2 separate regions of the Homo sapiens genome follow, and region 2 is linked to region 1. Evidence: fine-mapped QTL for protein levels in blood plasma. A gene starts in region 1. The other region holds a variant in brackets. All regions are shown on one strand. Distances are between the middles of the regions. Region 1 holds the start of SLURP1 (secreted LY6/PLAUR domain containing 1). Region 2 overlaps JRK (Jrk helix-turn-helix protein).

Evidence for each region. PIP is the posterior inclusion probability: the model's chance that the variant is causal. The UK Biobank Pharma Proteomics Project read protein levels with antibody pairs (Olink). The fine-mapping took linkage between variants from a reference panel, not from the people measured, so its PIPs are less certain.
Region 2: its variant is fine-mapped to the plasma level of the SLURP1 protein (UK Biobank, PIP above 0.99).

Annotation. Positions count from the first base shown.
Region 1 is chr8:142,737,088-142,747,791 of GRCh38, reverse strand. SLURP1 (secreted LY6/PLAUR domain containing 1) reads left to right here and starts at 5,386. Exons shown (of 3, transcript NM_020427.3): 1 at 5,386-5,464; 2 at 5,870-5,989; 3 at 6,516-6,843. The coding sequence starts at 5,407. The coding sequence ends at 6,649. RefSeq lists silencers at 8,189-8,268, 8,309-8,588 and an enhancer at 8,837-9,403.
Region 2 is chr8:142,647,796-142,658,499 of GRCh38, reverse strand. It overlaps JRK (Jrk helix-turn-helix protein), which reads left to right. Exons shown (of 2, transcript NM_003724.4): 2 at 1-1,040. Among named protein-coding and RNA genes, the nearest start is that of JRK, 17 kb to the left of the region's middle. The variant A/G (reference allele first, on the strand shown) is at 5,048.

The DNA of each region.
Region 1 (10,704 bases):
CTCAGCCACCACCTCCCATAACTCAGCATTAGCAATCCCCCCACCCCACTGCCAGGACATCTTCCTCGGCCTCAGCCCTGTGCCCACTGTCATCATGCCATCTAAGCCACCAGCCAATGTCCCTGGGTAGCTATCACAGCCACCTCCAGCTCCTTGCCTCCCCCTCTCTACCCTAGCCCACTGTTAAATCAGCAGCCAAACCTGAGAGCTCACTCAGTGCCTGTCTATGCAAAAAACCTCAATCCTCCAAGGAACTTGACTAGCTATCAGACTCGCCTGTGAGATGTAATTGGCTCTGCAGCCTGGATACAGGGTCAGAACCAAGGCTGCGGGTGTCAGACTGGCAAGTCTGAGCTCCCATGGAAGAAGGCCTGAAACAGGTCTGTCCCAGTGGGGCAGGTACTGCCCTGAGAAGGAGTAAGATTCCCATTCCCAGGGGTGTCCAAACCTGTGCTAAGTTTTGTCAGAGAGGCTGCAAGAGCATTTGTACCCTGGGGAGAAGTCAACCTGAATGCCCACAAATACCCATCCTGGGTCACCTTGGAAGAAACAACATTAAGCCTGTCTTTAACTACTCATCCATCCATCCATTCATCCATCCATCCATCCATCCATCCATCCATCCCTCCTCCACCCACCCACTCATCCATCCATCTCCCCTTTTAGCCATACATTATTCACCTATCCATCCTTCTACCCATATGCCCACCCACCCATCCATCACTCTCTCCATCCATCCACCCATCCCCTATCCATTTATCTATCCATCCATCCATTCACTCATCCATCCACCATCCATCCATCCACTCATCCATCCACCCATCCATCCGTCTTCTGTCCAGTCTCCATTCATTCACTCATCCATTCATCCCCCATCCATCGACCCATCCACCCACCCCTGCATCTATCCCTCTTCTGTCCCCCATCCATCCACCCACCCATCCATCCACTCACCCATCCATCCATGCATGCACCCACCCATTCATCCATCCATCCCCCATCCATCCACCCATGCACCTACCCATTCATCCATCTATCCCCCTTCCATCTCCCCATCCATCCATCCATCCATCCTCCATCCATCCCCCATCTATCTATCCACCCATCCATCCATCCATCCATCCTCCAGCAAATGCTGCTCAACAGTCAGCATGGTCAGACCCAGGCTGTGGGAGAAGGATTCTTAGAGGAATGGAAACATGTTCTACTTGAGGAGATGACAGTCCAGTAGTCCCTCAGGCCAGCCCAGACAGGGCAAGCATCAAACACCAACAGTGGTGGTGGGGCTTTTTGACTGCATGCTGAAGGCAGTGGAGAGCCAGGGAGCGTTTCTGGGAAGAGCAGTGCCATAAGCCAGTTTGCATTTTAGCTGGTCTCTCTGAGTGGAGGGTGGAGAGTGTAGCCAAGGAGAAAGGGCCAGGCCTCTGGGAAAGAGACCGGGCTGACATGGCAGATAGCTGGGGCTTGGTGTGAACTGGCTCAGTGCTGCAGGCCTATCATGGATGAGAACTCTGGGGTTTGGGGGATTGAGCTGCCTTCAAAAAACCTGGTCTCCTGGTTCCACATGTCGGGAAAAGGTGTGGATTCATGGAGAGGCAGGAGGAGGGGAGGGCAGTCACCTAACTAGGGCATAAATTCTCCCTGCTTGAGTTGTGTCTGACACAGTGCTGCTTTTCCACCTGCCAATAGGGTGCTGGGCTCAGGGATGGGCCAAGTTAGTGCCCACTCTTCCCACACAGCGGAAAGGCTGCCTGTGCCCCTCTGCTGGCTGCTACTCCCACCCAGAGCACCCTCTGAGGACTTCCCTCCCTTTCAAAGCCAATGTGAGCAGCAGCTGAGAGCAGTACCCCTGTCCTCAGCATCCGCCCACCTCTGCCCCAAGTACACCTGCACTGTGATCAGCACAGAGCTGAGTTGAAAGCTTGATGGAGGCCCATCCTTTGCCAGATACTTGCTAGTTTTCACAACCACCCTCTGGCAGATGTTCCCCTGACCAGTTTATAGATGAAAGAACGTGGGGTGAGAGTCCTTGTGAGTAGACATGGGCTTCACGGGAGGCCGGGTGGAGCTCAGGCTCCAGAACCGGACAGTCTCTGACTCCTCTCGAAACACCTGGGTGTGTCTGTGGACCAAGCCCTGGGGAGAGGCTGCTCTTGGTTGCCATCTGTGCACCAACCCATGTCAGCCCCTTTGTTTGATTTGCAGTAACTACGCCCTCCCTTGGCTTTCTTGCAACCATCCCACAGCCTCACACAACTCACCTCAGCCCACAAGGCCAGGTCACTTCAGCTTTCACAACTACAAACAGAAAACCAAAGACTGGAAGGAAAAAGGGGCCACACCAAGGCCACAAATGGAGAGAGCAGTAGGCCAAGACCAGAACCCAGGACTCCTGGTGCCAGCCCAGAGCTCCTTCCAGCATCGAATTCTGCCTCGGAAGGGCCCATTCACTACACATTTGTCTGCCGCCACTTTTATAGCCACCCATCCCTCCATCCCTGAATTCTCCCATCCATTCATTCATTTTTTCACACATCAACTCTCTCAAATGTCATTCATTTAATAATCCATCCACCCATCTTGCCCCCATTCATCCATCCATCCTCCACCCACCTATCCACCCATCCTCCATCCATCCATCCTTCTGAAATCCATCCATCCACACATCTATCCAACATCCATCCATGCATCCACCCACCCATCCTCTGCCCATCCACCCATCCGTCCCCATCCATCCACTCATCCTCCCCTCATCCCCCACGCATCCACCCATCCATCCTCCACCCATTCCCCATCCATCCCCCACCCATCCACCCATCCATCCCCCACTTATCCATCTACCCATCCATCCACCCATCCATCCATCTATCCATCCCCCACCCATCCTCCATTCATCCCCCACCCATCCATCTATCCATCCCCCACCCATCCATCTATCCATCCCCCACCCATCCACCCATATATCCTCCACCCATTCCCCATCCATCCCCCATCCATCCCATATTCATCCCTCACTCATCCATCTACCCATCCATCCACCCATCCATCCATCCACCCATCCATCCATCTATCCATCCCCCACCCATCCTCCACTCATCCCCCACCCGTCCACCCATACATCCTCCACCCATTCCCCATCCATCCCCCATCCATCCCATATTCATCCTCCACTTATCCATCTACCCATCCATCCACCCATCCATCCATCCACCCATCCATCCATCTATCCATCTACCCATCCAGCCACCTATCCATCCCACACTCATCCTCCACTCATCCCCCACCCATCCACCCATACATCCTCCACCCATTTCCCATCCATCCCCCATCTATCCACCCATCCATCCATCTATCCATCCCATATTCATCCCCCACTCATCCATCCACCCATCCATCCACCCATCCTCCACTCATCCCCCACCCATCCACCCATATATCCTTCACCCATTTCCCATTCATCCCCCATCCATCCATCCAATCCATCCCCCATCCATTCCATATTCATCCCCCACTCATCCATCTACCCATCCATCCATCTATCCATCCATCCATCTATCCATCCATCCCCCACCCATCCTCTATTCATCCCCTACCCATCCACCCATACATCCTCCACCCATTTCCTATCCATCCCCCATCCATCCACCCATCCATCCATCTATCCATCTACCCATCCAGCCATCTATCCATCCCCCACTCATCCTCCACTCATCCCCCACCCATCCACCCATACATCCTCCACCCATTCCCCATCCATCCCTCATCCATTCCATATTCATCCCCCACTCATCCATCCACCCATCCATCCACCCATCCATCCATCTATCCATCCATCCCCCACCCATCCTTCATTCATCCCTGACCCATCCACCCATACATCCTCCACCCATTTCCCATCCATCTCCCACCATCCACCCATCCATCCCATATTCATCCCCCACTCATCAGCTACCCATCCATCCACCCATCCATCCATCCACCCAACCATCCCCAACCCATCCTCCATTCATCCCCCACCCATCCACCCATCCATCCTCCACCCATTTCCCATCCATCCCCCATCCATCCAACCATCCATCCCCCATCCATCCCATATTCATCCCCCACTCATCCATCTACCCATCCATCCACCCATCCATCCATCCATCCACCTATCCATCCATCTATGCATCCATCCCCCACCCATCCTCCATTCATCCCCAACTTATCCACCCATACATCCTTCACCCATTTCCTATCCATCTCTTACCATCCATCCATCCATCCCATATTCATCCCCCACTAATCCATCTACCCATCCATCCACCCATCCACTCATGCATCCACCCATCCATCTCCCATTCATTTACCCATCCATCCCCCACCCATCTATCCATCCATCCCCTATCCATCGCCTATTCATCCCCCATTCATCCATCCCCCATCCATCCATCCATCAACTCATCCATCTATACAACCACCCATTGGGACATCACAGGACAGAGAAACCAGAGAGGCTGGTATACCTGGAAGGACTGTGGAGAGGGGCACCTTAGTGGGTCTCACAGCATGGGGAAGATGTGGGACATCAGATGGGAGACCAGGCAATGTGGTCATTGAGCGGTATGGCATAGGCAGGCATGCGTGTGGAACAGGGTGTCGTGGGGGGCACGCAGTAAAGAGCAGACAACACAGTCAGGCCAGGAGGCTGGAGGGTGAGCAGAACCTTATTGTCAGGCGCCTAAAATCAAGAAACTCAGGTTTGGTCTAAAGGCCATTAGTGGGAAGGGGCTGGCAGTGATGAGGGGCCACTCCTGGGCCCAACCTTGTCAGCCTGAGAGTGGTCTAGCTGGCCCATGCTACCCTCACCTGACACCTGCTTCCTACCTCTGGTTTCTACTTTGCAGGTGTGTATCAGGTGTACACAGACCAGGTAGAGGTCTGTGGAGAGGGCTGCAGGCCAGGCTGCAGGGAAGGGGTGCCAGGCGGGGCTAGAGCAACAAGGGCAGAGGCTACACTGAACCTGGGTCTTAAGGGTCCCCCAGGCTGGGGCTGGGTGGCCTATGTGAACCCCAGAGGCACAGCCAGGACATGGGGGCTCATCAGAGGGGCAGTCTGAGCTCAGCAGGAAAGGCCTTCTCTGTCAGAGCTGTCCCAGGACCACTGGACATGGCTGAGGAACAGTGAGTTCCCCAGTGTTGGAGGTGTGCAAGCAGAGGCCTGGCCATCGTCCTCAGACAGAGCTCCCAGATCCAGCTCCCTGCCCGTCTGCCATGTTCCTGCCAGCTGCCTCCCCACTGGGCCCTTTACCACGTTCCTGACTCACACGGCCGGTTCTGCCACCGCCCAGAAGCCGGTGCCCAAGGGCCTGGGTATAAATCCTTGATGTGAGGCTGGCTACCTCTCATCACTTCTGAGCACGGAGCAATGGCCTCTCGCTGGGCTGTGCAGCTGCTGCTCGTGGCAGCCTGGAGCATGGGCTGTGGTGAGTGGGCCGCAGGCTGGTGGGGACCCTGCCTCTGAGCTTGTCTGCCCACCTCCTAGGGGGATGGGGCTGTTGGGGGTGCTTTGTGGCTGAGAGCCTCCTTAGGCCTCCATGAGGCTCACCCTCCTCATTCTCAGTGAGCCTCCTGGGTCCCAGAGCCCAGCTTCACCCTGGGACAGGGGTCACGGCTCCACTCTGCAGGAAGGGAGACTGAGGCTTGGTGGAGGGATGCAGCATTCAAGTCTGTGGCTCAGCTCAGTTAGAGAAAGCTGCCAGAGAGGCCCCTTGAAGGGCTGCCCGGGGCCTTGAAAGATGTCAGCGAGACTCCTTCAGCCCCTGCCTCCTGGTTCCAGGATGAGGCCACCGAGGTCAGGTGATGAGGTTCTGCCCCCATCCCTCACCCAGGTGAGGCCCTCAAGTGCTACACCTGCAAGGAGCCCATGACCAGTGCTTCCTGCAGGACCATTACCCGCTGCAAGCCAGAGGACACAGCCTGCATGACCACGCTGGTGACGGTGGAGGCAGGTGAGGCCAGGCCCCACGGCAGCCCTGGGTGCACTGGAGTCAGGGCCACCTCCCCCAAGTGCCTCCCTCCTTTGCTGGTGCTCCTCCCGGCCCAAAAGGCAGCAGGTGGGATGGGCAGAACAGGCTGCCACACCTTGGCAGGGGTGCCTTCCACGAGGGTGGCACAGCCCCCTCAGAGACCCAGTCCTGGGGCACCAGGCGCTGGAGGTGGGTGGGGCTTAATGGCCGGGGTACCCTGGGGGGCTCAAACCCCAGCTCTGACACAGACCCACTGGGTGGTGTTGCCACAGCCTCTGGGCTCGGGCTCCCATCTCAGCGCAGGCACTTCAGAGGTCTGACAAGGCCTAATAATTCATGAACAGGTCACAGTCAGAGGAGGGCTGGGCCCTGGGTGGCTTCACAGATGTGGACTATTGGGAACAGGGATCACAGGGAGGGTGAGGTCAGGCGACGGCGGCTGGGAGCAGTGCAGCAGCAGGCAGGCGCTGCAGGGGAGTGAGGGTTCTGACACTGGCCCACCCTGCAGAGTACCCCTTCAACCAGAGCCCCGTGGTGACCCGCTCCTGCTCCAGCTCCTGTGTGGCCACCGACCCCGACAGCATCGGGGCCGCCCACCTGATCTTCTGCTGCTTCCGAGACCTCTGCAACTCGGAACTCTGAACCCAGGGCGGCAGGGCGGAAGGTGCTCCTCAGGCACCTCCTCTCTGACGGGGCCTGGCTCCACCTGTGATCACCTCCCCCTGCTTCCTGCTGCTGTGGCACAGCTCACTCATGGGGTCTGAGGGGAGAGAAGCACACCAGGGGCGCCCTCTGCCTTCCATACCCCACGCTTATAAAACATAACTAAGCCAAGAGTGGACATGACTTTTGTCCTTCCTGGGCACTGACACCCTACAGAACTGGCCTTCAGGAGAGCCAGGCTGAAGGACAGCACATTCTAGGCACCTGCTCCTCCCTCTCACCCAGAGCCTCTGTGACCCATTTCACAGATAGGAAAACAGAGACTTAGGGGAAGAAATGCCTCCTGGGCCCCTTTCCTGATGCAAACTAGCCTGGCATCTCAGACCAGGACCTGTACCCTAGCCCAGGGAACATCTCCCGCTAAGAATCTCCCCTGTAAACCCTGGAGACATCGCTCCCACCCTAGAGAGGGAAGGAAGCTCAGAGTTGGCATCCACTTTCCTCCAAGGGTGGATACATCTGGCTCTGCCTGCCCAGCCCAAGGGGTCTTCCTGGGTGTGTGCACCTGGGCCTGCTGGTACCACACAGCTCCACGGTTTCAGTCACCTCCTCTGACAACTGCCCACTGTCCCCTTGGGACAGCTGAGATTAGCGGAGGAGCCCCGGGTTCTCAGGACCCAGGAGACCTGACTTCCAGGCTCGCTTCCCCCTCTTCCTGGCCCTGGCTGTCCCATCACAGTCACAGTGCTCTGTGCCACTGTCACCCCTGTCGGCAGGTGGGCAGAGCCAACGGGGAGCACGGGCTGCTGTGGGCCTGAGCCACCCCTGGACACTGCCCCTCTCCAGGCCCCAGTCCCCTGGTGTCTCCTGGGCTGCACACCATCTAAGCGCTGCCCAGCTAGGTCTTGGGTTCTAAGGCCCCACACATCAGCTGGGTCACGCCCGTGGGGTCTTGTGGGCACCTGTGCCTGCTGGGGTGGGAGCGGTATGCAGCAGGCTGTGGTCAGACCAGCTGGGCATACCCGAGGAGCATGCGGGAGTAACCAGGGCAGTGGCGGGGGTCGCCTAGGACCCCTGTGAGAGCCCACCTCTGTCTATGAAGGGCCCAGATGTCAGAACCCACCCCCTACCTCTACGCCCTCCCAGAAATACCAGGAATTAAATGCTGTCCCTGGGGAGCAGCCCCGACCAGAGAAAGCTGCCAGAGAGGCCCCCTTGAAGGGCTACCCCGGGCCTCCCCGTTGGCCAGCACCGGGCCGGCGGCGTGGCTTCCGGTTAGGGCCCGTCCCCTGGGTCATGGCCGGACCTCCAAGGGCCTCACCCGGGCCTCGATTGGAGCCAAGGGGGCAGGGCCTTGGCCTCACCAGGGGGACGGAGCAAGAAGTCGCCGCATCTCTGGCAGCGTCCCCAGCGGCACAATGGGGATGAGGCCTCCAGGCTCTTTGGGAGCGCAGTGGTGAAGGCTCAGCAGGTGCCCCTATCCCTGGGAGGGCACCTGCGAGGGGCCCCCGATGCTGAGCCCGCACGGCCAGCAGAGGGCGCGCGCCCGAGTCCCGGAACCCGCGCCAGGAAGACTCGTCCCAGAGCGCGCACCGCGAGCACGCGGCGACCCTGTGCGCTCTGCCCGGAACCTGCACTGCGCGCGCAGCTGGGCCGCCTGGACCGTAGGGGTCCGCAGCACAGAGTTCAGAGAGCCCTGGCCCTCTCGGCCGGCCTGGAGGACGCCCACCTGCCCTGCCTGTCGCCGCGACCCTCCCAGGAAATGCGTGGGGAGGCCACGGCCAGGGAGGGACCTCGGGAGGGCGCGCCCACGGGGTGGGGCTCGCGGAGGCCAGGCGCTCACCACCCGGGCGCGCGGGGTCTAGGGAGGTGAGTGGGCGTCGCATCCGTGACCGTCGCAGGACGTGGGTAAAGCTGGCGGGGAAGCAGCCAGCCGCCAAGAGGTGGCGGTGGAGGGGAGGGAGAAGGGCGCCCACCCGTGCCGCTAGGCCCTACTGCGCGGAGGGGAAGCAGAGGCCCTTCTGAACCCCACTACCGCGGAGAGGTCAGACCAGCCAGCGCTAGTCTTCCGCAGCTTTAAGAAATCTCTAAAGGAGAGGGGTGTGCAGACCGCAGGGCGTCCCTCCCCGCCCTCAGGAGCAAGACCCTCCACCTCCCCAAGGGTGCCCCCAACTCGCAGGTGTCCAGAGGGGAAGTCATGCGGGGAGCGGCGGCCTGGGCCTGGGACGAATCAGCCCCTTTGGCCTGCCTCGTTGAGCCCCTGGCGGCCATACTGGGAATTCCCTGCCCTAGTCTGTTTCCCTATCCATGAGGTGGGCGATGGTCCTGCTGTCCCAGAATTCCGGACACCAGGCACAGTAGAACTCCACTCAGCAAGGCCTCAGATGTGGGGATCTGTGTCCCTGGGCCCTGAGGGGACACAACAGTGGCCAGTCAGCTGACTGAGCCCAGAGGCGGTGGCTGGATGCTGAGACTGAGCAGGCAACTGACCTAGGGTGAGCCCCGGGGACACCCACCAAAGCAGTCGTGACTCTGTCCACCTGGCCATCAGAGGGCACAGTGCCTCCTCCCCCAGGACGACGGACCCATGCACAGCCACCACCCCAGGACCTCCGGACACACTCCCATACCCTGTACCTGTCCCTTCTTCACCAGCATCCACCAAGGGCTTCCTGGGCCCGACACCTGGACACTGTGCAGACACCTCCGGGGGTGGGGGCGGCTGGGGCAGAAATTCTGCAGCTGTTGGCCTTGGGGGAAGGACGCGGGCCGAAGCAGTTGCTGCCCTCTAACTTCTCCGAGTGGCAGGCTCACAGGAGCAGAGTGGGCTCCAGTGGCTCCGCCAGGACAAGGCACTGGTTCACTTCCAATCCCAGCCACCCATTCCCTGACCCGGGCCAGTCCTGTCGTCAGCCCGTCCTCCAAAAACAAGACCAAGAGAGGGCCCTGCTGGCTCAAACCTTCCTCTGAGCCAGCCTATGACAGCCCAGGGTGTTCAGCTTCTGCATGGAGAGAGAAGCCCCAGAGGCTTGCGGGTGCTGCCCATTCAACCACCTTGAAGCTTGCCCGTTGCCTGCGTGCACGTGCGCACACACACACACACACACACAAATGCACACAGGCACGCACATCCATATGCGCACTGGATACACTCATTCCTAGTCCAGTCACTGAGCCCTACTCCCTATCCAGGCCAATGTGCCTTCCACGACCCAGAGGTAGCTGCTGAGCCAGGGACCGCAGTGGCATCATCACATGGTGCCCTCCCAAGGCCCAGGCACCCTGTCCTGTGGCCCCCGCCCTGCTCCAGGGCTCAGGCAGATGGTCAGGACCATCAGCTGGACGGCATCCCTACAGCTTCATCTGCAGCCCCACTGGGAAGCTTGTCTGGCAACACTCAGCTCACACACCTGTGGCGACCCCACGAGCCACCTCCCCCAAGGACCCCAGAGAAAGCACAGAGGCTTCTGGCCAACCAGTCTGGCTACAGACCCCAGATTTGCTGAGCAAGTTTGCTTCCCCTCCCCAGCCCTACTGCCCCATCACTAAATGCCGGTTTCATAGCTGTTTCCAACTGCCCACTCCTTCCCTGGCCCTCAGAGCCTTCTGGACCCTCCCAGGAAGGTGGTCACAGCATGGACGTGGCCACACCCCGCCTCACTCAACTTTATGTCCCGGAGGGTCCCACTTCTCCCCACCCCTTTTGAAGGGCCTGCAGAACAGCCCCCATGCTCTCTCTGCCTCCTGTCCACCCACCAGTCCATTGACCTCTGCCCCCAATGGCTACCAGCACCCTGCCCGAGGCTCTGGGAGCCTGGAGGGCCAGACCCAGAGTCTGAGGCATGACCGCCAGGGTAATCCCTGAAGGAGGGAAACCGGGAACCTGGCGCTGGCATCTGTAGATGGGGCTGCAAGCCTCGAGAGCTGGGAACCAGGAGGGCCGGAGCAGGAAGGGCTGGCTCCCCAGGGGGCTTTGGACAGCACCTTCTTGGCCTCAGTCCTATGCCCCATGGGATGAGGACAAGCCCTGCCCT
Region 2 (10,704 bases), 89 kb after region 1:
CGCCTGTAATCCCAGCACTGGAAGGCCAAGGCATTAGGATTGCATGAGTCCAGGAGTTCGAGACCAGCCTAGGCATGATAAGACCTTATTGCTAAAAAAAAAAAAAAAGGAAATAAAATAGAAAATTGCCATCTGCAAATGAGAAAGCCTTCAGCCGACACCAGACTGCCAGTGCCTTTGATATTGGACTTTCAGTCCCCAGATCTGTGAAAAATTAATTTATGTTGTTTAAGACACCTAGCCTGTGGTATTTTGTTATCGCAATCAAAACTGACTGAGACAGGCAGTAAGGAGAGAACAGAGGTTCCAGCCTGCTTCAGGTCCAGGCAGTTCTGCCATTGCCCCTAACTCCTCAGTGCCAGTCATGGGCCAGGCCCCTGGGGGACTTGGAATGAGTAAAACATGCACCTATTGTTAAGGTTCACCTGGTCCAGAAGGGGAGGCAGACCCACCTGCCCACCATGACCCGGACAGAGGCAATAAATACGGAGCACCTCATGGCCAGGGCCTGGAGGATTCCCACCATACCCTACCCAGCGCCAATAACAGAGGGACCCTGGAGTTGTGTACGCAAGATAGCAGTTCAGTGCTTGCACACATACTAGTTGAGAAGGGAAATCAGGGCTAATGAAACAGCTCAACTGTCTGGCAGAGCCAGGCTCCTTCTGCCATGATACAGTTTGGATGTTTGTCCCTTTCTAATCTTATATGGAAATTTGATCCCCAGTGTTGAAGGTGGGGCCTGGTGGGAAATGTTCCTGTTATCGGGATGGATCCTTCATGAATAGCCTGGTGCCATCTTTGTGGTAACAAGTGAGTTCTCACTTGATTAGTTTCTGTGAGAACTGTTTGTTAAAAAGAGCCTGGTGGCACCTCCCTCCCTTCTTCCTCCTGCTCTTGCTATGTGATGCTGCTGCCCTTTGCCTTCCGTCATGAGTGGAAGCTCCCTGAAGCCCCCACCAGAAGCAAATGCTGGCACCATGCTGCTTGTACAGCCTGCAGAACTGTGAGCCAAATAAACCTCTTTTCTTTATAAATTACTCAGCCTCAGGTGTTACTTTATAACCATGCAAACAGACCAAGACATGCCATGTGTATTTCATGAAGGGAGCCACAGGGTTGAAGATGTTACAGGACACCTGCTCTAATCCCCACCACTGTGTCTGCCTCCCCACCACTGTGTCTGCCTCCAGAAAGCACACCACTTCTGCTCCTGTCCCTCGAGCCAGGTCCCAGTCATATGAGTACAACTAGTTACAAGGGGTCTGGGTAGCATGATTGTAGAGGATGGGTGAGTGAGTATAGGACTCATCTAGCAGTGCAAGTCAGCCCAGGCCTTGTGCCTTCATGCCCTCTCCAGCAATTATGTCTGAGCTCCTCCAGTTTCTGTAAGGAGAGAGCAGAGTTTCCAGCCTGCTTCAGGTCCGTGAAGTTCTGTGTGCTGCGCGGATGTGGCAGTGACTTCACTAGAGGAGTTGGCAATTCCTAAGCCCTCCCCAGAGGCTTCCACAGAGACATAATGTTGGAGAACTTCTGCCTCATGGCAGTGCTGGGCACAAGATAGATTTATGAGGTGAGCTGTGGGTGTGAGGGATGGAGGCAGGCAACAACTCTTAGTGGGCTTCACCTGTAGAGTGGGGAGTCTACACTGAGAGGCAAGCCCAGAACACCTGGTATTGCTGATTCCCCTCCCACCAAACGCTCAGCTCCCAAAGTTGGGGAGATACAGCGTTGTCCCCACCCCAAACGGCAGAGCCACTGGAGAAGCAGGCCATAGAACAGAGAGCTCCACATTCCTCCCCACAGGAACTGACTTCATTTGTAAGGATGTGAAGTTCAAGCCTAAGGGTGCTCTCAAAAACAGTGGAAGTGATGGAGAAAGGCAACTGTGGTAAATCAGTAGATTTATTGGAGATATATGCCAAAAATATAGTCTGGCTGGTAAAAGTATCACAAACACTAACTTCAGGAACTATCCCTTCAAAGGAGCCCAAATTTGATTGGATTAACCTGTGAAGCAGTTTAAACAGAACAATCAGCTGATCATTAGTGGAGCTTAACAGCTGGATGTGGTCAGGGAAAACAACAAAGAGCTTTGCAACACTTTCAAACCACTGTCATCCAGGGTGACTGAGGGCATAACCTAGGCTGTGCTCCTGAGGAGAAAAACTGAGATGCAGTCAGAGGCTCTGGGATGTGGGGTGGGAAATGGATGCCACTAAAATAGTCTAGCTGGTCACTAAGCAAAGAAAGTAGGAAAATAGTCTGAGATTGGGTTGGCTAGTATCCAGAATTGCTACAATAGGTTACCTAAGATGTCCACTCTTCAACAGATAATTATGAGGCATGCAAAGAAACAGGAAAGTATGGCCTATACACTGGGGAAAAAGGCAGGTAATAGAAACTACCTATGTAGAGTAAGATGCTGGATTTAAAAGAAAAAGGTTTCAAAGTGGCCATCATAAATATGGTCTGAGAACTAAAGGACATGATTGAAGAACTAAAGGTGGTAAAACTAAAGGAAGGGGTGAGCCAATATTGCCTCAAATGGAGATTAAGAAGGTAGAATTAGCGCAGATCCACAGTAGATTCTGATAAAATGTAAATGGTGATCCCTAGAACAACCACTAAAGAAATAATTTAGAAAATAGAGTGAAAAAATCATTAAATTAAAACGCTACATTGGAAAATACCCAGTGTAAAAGCAGCAAAGGAGGAAGAGAGGACCCAAGAAGACAGGAGGCAGAACGCGCTTAGTGGGACCTGTGCTGTCCACATTCTGTGGCACTTATCTAATCTTCCTGACACCTGGCTGGTCACTAGTGCCATCCCCATTGTACAGATGAGCAGTTGAGGCTCAGGAGCAGCAGGGATGGTCAGGGACACAGTTTGGAGTCCGGAGCCGTTTTACTCCACAGCCTGGGATCTCACTGCATCCCTTCCCCTGCCTGTTGCCTGTGATTCCCCGCTTTTCTTGGCCTCTGGAGACATCTGCCTTGGCTGTGTCTGCCAGCCTCCTGCTGTGCTGAGGTGGATGTGCCTAGGGTGCTGCTGTGTCCTGCTTTCCCTGGGCAGTCCTGGTGGCACCTGTTGTCCTGGAACAATTGCTAATAACACCCCTTTCACTCTCAAGAATGTCTGATTCGTGTGGGGCCACTCTGCAGGGCCCAACCTTCACACAGTGCCTAACACATGGTGTCTGTGGGGTGTCAGCTCTTCAGGGGCCCCAGGCCAGCGGTCACAGCAAGGTCACCACTAGAGGACATTGAATGGTGCCACCTCTGAAGTCAGTGCTGGTCCCCAGGGTCTCTGTGTGGGCAGTAACCTGGAGCAGCCCTTGCTGGGGAAGGAGAACTGGCACTACTAGGACCCATCTCAAGGGGGCATGCAAAGGCAGAGAGGGATCCAGCCTGGGGGTGGTCACCTGAGGGCAGCCCCCATGGTTCCAGCTGTGGCTCAAGAAGCCCTTGAAGCCGCCATAGGAGGCTGAGCAGGGGAGGCCTCCTCAAAGCCACCTTGGGGCAGGCAGAGCCTCAGAAGGGACCCCGAGGCTGGCAGGGCAAGGAGCTTCCGCAGCTGACCTCCAGAAGTGCAGCTCTCTGCTGAGAGAGGCACTTAGTTGGGAGGCCTAGGTCTTCTGCTTGCTCTTGGCCTCATCTTCACTGAGGAGGGCCTGGGGCAGCTCAAGGCTCTTGGCTGCAGCAAATCAGCACCCAGGAGGCTGTGCCCCTTGACCCTTGAGCTGGGGAGTGGCTGGGGGCTTGGGCAGGGCGCCTGGGCAGGACAGCATTAAGCAGGTGGCACCTGCACTGGCTGTGCCTGACTCTGGGGTGGGGAGGACTCCAGATGCCCAGTGAGAGCTGAGCCAGCCAGGGAGGTCAGGTGGGCTCTGCCAGCTGAGGAGGGCTGGTGGGAGTCTGTGCTCCTGAGCCCTGGGTACAGCCCTCTTCTTTGAATTGCCTGTTCTGGGGTAGCCCTGGGGGTAGGGTGACAGGATCCCACCAAGACACAGGGACCACATTGGCCTCCAGCCTGGGAGCCTCACAAACATTCCTTGCTCAGCAGAATCAGGCTGGACCCTTAGCAAGGAGTGGCTGGAGTCTGGCTGCAGAGGGAAGACATCAGCAGGGAGGGAGCCAGGGCCTGTCACATCTTTCCTCTGGCCATTGTCCTGGTCTTTGTAAGCCCAGAATCTCCCCTTCCCTGAAGGGAGGCCAGCACCCCAGGAGGGCAGCAGGTGTGCTGTGAGGGTTGGAGTAGTGTGAGAGGTCAGGGTACACTAGAATGGCCATGGACACCATGTGGGGGTGCTCTGGGCTGGGCCACAGAACAGTGTCCTTCCTGCTGCTCCTCCCCTGCAGCTTCCCCCGACCTTGTGGTTTATTTGGTTTGATACCAATCAGCAGACCCTGCAGGGTGGAGGCTCCCAGGCCTCTCAGTCCCACCACTCTCATGTGCCAGTCAGCCCTACTGTAACTGCCCAATGAGTACTTCTTGCCCACTGCCAAGATAGAGCCAGTTTACCAAGACAGGGGAATTGCAGTAGAGAAAGAGTTGAATATACATAGAGCCAGCTAAATGGGAGAGTGGAGTTTTCTTATTACTTAAATCAGCCTCCCCTAAAATTCAGAGGTGAGAATTTTTCAAGGACAGTTTGGTGGGCAGGGCCTAGGGAATGGATGCTGCTGATTGGCTAGGGATGCAATCATAGGGGTGTAGAAAAGGTCCTTGTGCACTGAGTCCACTTTTGGGTGAGAGCTACCAAGGAGCTGCTGGTCTGCTGGTCCCGGTAGAGCCATCTGGTGTCAGGAATGCAAAAGTGTGGCCAGGCACAGTGGCCCACACTTGTAATCCTAGCACTTTGGGAGGCTGAGGCAGGAGGAATGCTTGAGCCCAGGAGCTCGAGACCAGTCTGGGCAACATAGTGAGACCTCTTCTCTACAAAACATTAAAAAAAAAATAGCCAGGAGTGGTGGCACGTCCCTGTGGTCTCAGGTACTTGGGAGGCTGAGGCAGGAAGACTGCTTGAGCCCAGGAGGTCAAGGCC[A/G]CACTGTGCCATGATTCTGCCACTGCACTCCAGCCTGGGTGACAGAATGAGACCCTGTCTGAAAATACATCTTAAAAGTCCAATCCTAGGTTCTACAATAGTGATGTTATCTGCAGGAGTAATTGGGGAAGTTGAAAATCTTGTAACCTCTGGGACAAGAGTAATTGTTTATCCCTACATCTTAGCAGAATCCAGGCCCCTCTCATCCTCTTAACTTGGTGGCCTTTCATTAGTATTACGAGGGTGGCTTAGTCGTGGGAAGGGCTGTTATCATTTAAATTACAAACTAAATTTCTCCCAAAGTTAGCTTGGCCCACTCCCAGAAGTGATCAAGGGCAGTTTGGAGGTTAAAGGCAAGATGGAGTCAGTTAGGTCAGATCTCTTGCACTTAAAATTTTTGCAGAGGTCTCTTCACCATGGTCTGCCTGCTGATGGATGTGGCCCAAGCCAGGCCTGTGGGGAGCCGCTGCATATCCCTCTGCACCGTGGGGTACCTGGCCAGTCTGGGCCAGTACTGGGGCCTTCACAGAGGGGTGTAAAAAATGAATGAACATCATCAATTTTTGGAACCCTAGAAATGACGTTGAGCCTAGAAGGAAATGTGGCTGTGTGGCATAACCGTGCAGCATGCAGCTGCAGCTTCCACTTCTCCAGCTATAGGTCACCTCTCTTTCTCTTTTTTCTTGTTCTGTAAATTGATTATGTGAAAGGAAAATACACTGGGGCTCCCAAATCACTAAGCTAAAGGGAAAAGTCAAGCTGAGAACTGCTTAGAGCAGTTATTACTTAAATCAGCCTCCCCTAAAATTCAGAGGTGAGGATTTTTCAAGTTCGGTGGGGAGGGGCCTATGGAATGAGCCCCTCCCTGTCTCCTATTCAAAGTCACCCCTCTGCTCATTGAGATAAATGTATATCTGATTCCCTTCTTTGGAGAGGCTAATCAGAAACTCAAAAGAATGCAACCATTTGTCTCTTATCTACCTATGACCTGGAAGCCCCTGCCCCACTTTGAGTTGTCCCGCCTTTCCAGACTGAGCCAATGTTTATCTTACATATGTTGATTGATGTCTCATATCTCCCTAAAATGTAGAAAACCAAACTGTGGTCTGACCACCTTGGGCACATGTCAGGACCTCCTGAGGCTGTGTCATGGGCGTGTGTCCTCAACCTTGGCAAAATAAACTTTCTAAATTAACTGAAACTTGTCTCAGATTTTCTGGGTTCATATTTTGGTAATCACAAAGGGATTCTGAGTGGAGGTGCCTCTGACCTTTGAAAAAATCTCCTATGAGTGCTTAGTACCAGCTTGAGTTATCTTTATGGCTCAAACCAATAGGGCAATTTACTGAGGCCTGGAAGCACCCCCTCCAAAAAATCCCTGATCTCCCAAAATTTGGTTGAGATTTAATGTTTATGCTGTACAACTCCCACCACCCCCCCTTTTTTTGGAGTTTTACTTGTTTCCAACACAAGACAGGCAAGTTTTTTCCTGCTTCTATGATGATGGGAGGCAGGTAACTCCTTTATGGAGTTTGAGCTCACTTCCAACAGGGAAGATGAGGTTTTTTTTCCTGCTTCTAGGATGGTGGAGAGCAGTCTTCAGCCTGAGATCCATCCCTAGGTAAGTAACTGAATTGAGGTTTGTCTTGGCTAAAGTTAAAATTAACAGCCAGCTGGTCTTAATTTCTGCTTACTGTTAGAGCACTCAGTAATGATATAAGTTGTGCAATTGTTTGTTTTGCTTTGCTCTTTGTTGTTTTGTTGTTTGTTTCTGTTTTTGTTGTTTCAGTCTTTTTCCCATTGGGTTTGACCAATTCTATCTGACTTGATCAAATCTGAAGGAAAGTTTCAAATTATGGGGAACAAGGCCTCTGAAGTGGCTAAATTCCCACCAAAAAAAAAAAAAAAAAAAGATTGATTTTTGATTTTCATTACTTAAGGGGCTTTATTTACATAACAAGACCACTTTTTGCTAGCCAGGCCAAACTGAAAGCAATGGCTGTTACCCCACAGTGCAGTTCAATGCCTAGGGTTCTGCCTTCCTTTTTTTTTTTTTTCCAGCATGACAGCTGGGTTTGGTTCCTAAATCAAGTCCTTTCTGGTTTGATACTTGGTACTTCTGAAATAGCAGCAATTTGTCCTAGCTGCAATATGGTAATGAGATTTTAAAACTTTTTTTTTAAAGGAGCTCAATGGTTGAAAGTCAGATAAATTAAAGTTAACATCCAAAATGTGTGTATGTGTTTGTTTTTAAAGGACCTTCATGTTTTTGTTTTTGTTTTTTTCCTCTCTTAGAACCTTGTCTTTTTTTTGAACAAAGGTTTTTTTCTTCTCAGTTGACTCAATTCTAGTTTCTTCATTTACTTCTGCTGTCTCTCCTTTCTCTTGCACCCTCTGCTGCACGGGGGACCTAAAATAGTTTATATTATTTATAAATAGTGTGGAGTTCCTTAAAGAAACTCCTTAAAGAAAATGGAGAAGGTGCTAGACTCCCTTTGGGGGAGAAACCTCTGTTTTTCCTTATGGAACCCCAAGAATTTAAACAGACAAGTTTGTTTCAGTCCTTAAACCACTTAATTTTGTATTGTGTACCTGATTTTTTTAACTAAAATAGTTATTGCAACAGAGACTACCCTTGTTTTTTAAGGAAGACTGTAGTTTAGACACTTAGAAATGTGTTTGTATTAGTCCATTTTCACGCTCCTGATAAAGACATGCCCGAAACTGGGCAATTTACAAAAGAAAGAGGTTTCATGGACTTACAGTTTGGCATCGCTGGGGAGCCCTCATGATGATGGTGGAAGGCAAGGAGGAGCAAGTCACATCTTACATGGATGGCAGCAGGCAAAGAGAGTTTGTGCAGAGAAACTCCCATCTTTAAAACCATCAGATCTCTGCAGACTTATTCACTATCATGAAAACAAGACAGGAAAGACTGACTTTATGATTCAATTACCTCCCACTGGGTTCCTCCAACGACATGTGGGAATTGTGGGAGTTACAATTCAAGGTGAGATTTTGGTAGGACACAGAGCCAAACCATATCATTCCACCCCCGGCCCCTCCCAAATCTCATGTCCTCACATTTTGAAACCAATCATGCCTTTCCAACAGTCTCCCAGAGTCTTAACTCACTTCAGCATTAACTCAAAACTCCACAGTCCAAAGTCTCATCTGAGACAAAGCAAGTCCCTTCTGCCTATGAGCCTGTAAAATCAAAAGCAAGTGAGTTACTTCCTAGATACAATGGGGGTACATGCATTGGGTAAATACAGCCATTTCAAATGGGAGAAATTGGCCAAAACAAAGGGGCCACAGGCCCCATGCAAGTCTGAAATCCAGCAGTGCAGTCAAATCTTAAAGCTCCAAAATGATCTCCTTTGACTCCATGTTTCACATCCAGGTCACACTGGTGCAAGAGGTGGTTTCCTGTGGTCTTGGGCAGCTCCGCCCCTGTGGTTTTACAGGGAACAGCTTTCCTCCTGGCTGCTTTCACAGACTGGTATTGAGTGTCTGTGTCTTTTCCAGGCACACGGTGCAAGCTGTTTGTGGATCTACCATTCTGGGGTTTAGAGGTCAGTGGCCATCTTCTCACAGCTCCACTAGGCAGTGCCCCAGTGGGGACTGTGTGTGGGGGCTCCCACCCCACATTTTCGTTCCACACTGTGCTAGCAGAGGTTCTCCATGAGGGTCCTGCCCCTGCAGCAAACTTCTTCCTGGACATCCAGTCGTTTCCATACACCCTCTGAAACCTAGGTGGAGGTTCCCAAACTTCAATTCTGGACTTCTGTGCACTCACAGGGTCAACAGCATGTGGAAGCTGCCAAGGCTTGGGGCTTGCATCCTCTGAAGCAGTTTACAAAATAAAGAGGTTTAATGGAGTTACAGTTCCACGTAGCTGGGAGTGCCTCACAATCATGGGGGAATGGAACGAGGAGCAAGTCACGTCTTACATGGATAGCAGCAGGCAAAGAGAAAGATAACATGTGCAGGGGAACTTCTCTTCAAAAAACCATCAGGTCTTGTGAGACTTACTTACTCTCAGGAGAAAAGCATGGGAAAGACTTTCCCCCATGATACAATTACCTCCCACTGGGTCCCTCCCACAACACGTGGGAATTCACGATGAGTTTTGGGTGGGGACACAGCCAAACCCTATCATTCTGCCCTTGGCCCCTCCCAAATCTCATGTCCTTACATTTCAAAACCAATCATGCCTTCCTAACAGTCTCCCGCAGTCTTAATTCATTTCAACATTAACTCAAAAGTCAACAGTCCAGTCTCTTCTGAGACAAGGAAAGTTCCTCCCACCTACGAGCCTGTAAAATCAAAAGCAAGTTAGTTACTTCCTAGATACAATGGGGGTACATGCATTGGGTAAATACAGCCATTTCAAATGGGAGAAATTGGCTGAAACAGGCCCTATGCAAGTTTGAAATCCAGCGGGGTGGTCAAATCTTAAAGCTCCAAAATGATCTCCTTTGACTCCATTTCTCACATCCAGGTCATGCTGATGCAAGAGGTGGGTTCCCATGGTCTTGGGCAGCTCCACCCTTGTGGCTTTGCAGGGTACAGCCTCCCTCCCAGCTGCCTTCATGGGCTGGTGTTGAGTGTCTGTGGCTTTTCCAGGTGCACAGTGCAAGCTGTCAGTGGATCTACCATTCTGGGGTCTGGAGGATGGTGGCCCTCTTCTCACAGGTCCACTAGTGGTGATGCCCCAGTAGGGACTCTGCATGGGGGCTCTGACCCCACATTTCCCTTCCACACTGCCCTAGCAGAGGGTCTCCTGAGGGCCCCACCCCTGCAGCAAACTTCTGCCTGGGCATCCAGGCATTTCCATACATCTGAAATGTAGGCAGAGGTTCCCAAACTTCAATTCTTGACTTCTGTGGACTCACAGGCTCAACACCATGTGGAAACTGCCAAGGCTTGGGACTTGCACACTCTGAAGCCATGACCTGAGCTCTATGTTGGCCCCTCTCAGCCATGGCTGGAGTGGCTGGGATGCAGGGCACCAAGTCCCTAGGCTGCACACAGTATGGCAACCCTGGGCCTGGCCCATGAAACCACTTTTTCCCCTAGGCCTTTGGGCATGTGATGGGAGGGGCTGCTGTGAAGACCTCTGACATGCCCTGGAGACATTTTCCCCATTGTCTTGGGGATTAACATTCAGCTCCTTGTTACTTATGCAAATTTCTGCAGCTGGCTTGAATTTCTCCTCAGAAAATGGCATTTTCTTTTCTATCACATTGTCAGGTTGCAAATTTTCCAAACTTTTATGCTCTCTTTCCCTTATAAAACTGAACGCCTTTAACAGCACCCAAGTCACCTCTTGAATGCTTTGCTGCTTAGAAATTTCTTCTGCCAGATATCCTAAATCATCTCTCTCAAGTTCAGAATTCGTCACATCTCCAGGGCAGGGGCAGAATGCCACCAGTCTCTTTGCTAAAATATAACAAGAGTCACTTTACTCCAGTTCCCAACTAGCTCCTCATTTTCATCTGAGACCACCTCAGCCTGGACTTTATTGTCCGTATTACTATCAGCATTTTGGGCAAAGCCATTCAGCAAGTGTCTAGGAAGTTCCAAACTTTCCCACGTTTCCCTGGCTGCTTCTGAGCCCTCCAAACTGTTCCAACCCCTGCCTTTTACGCAGT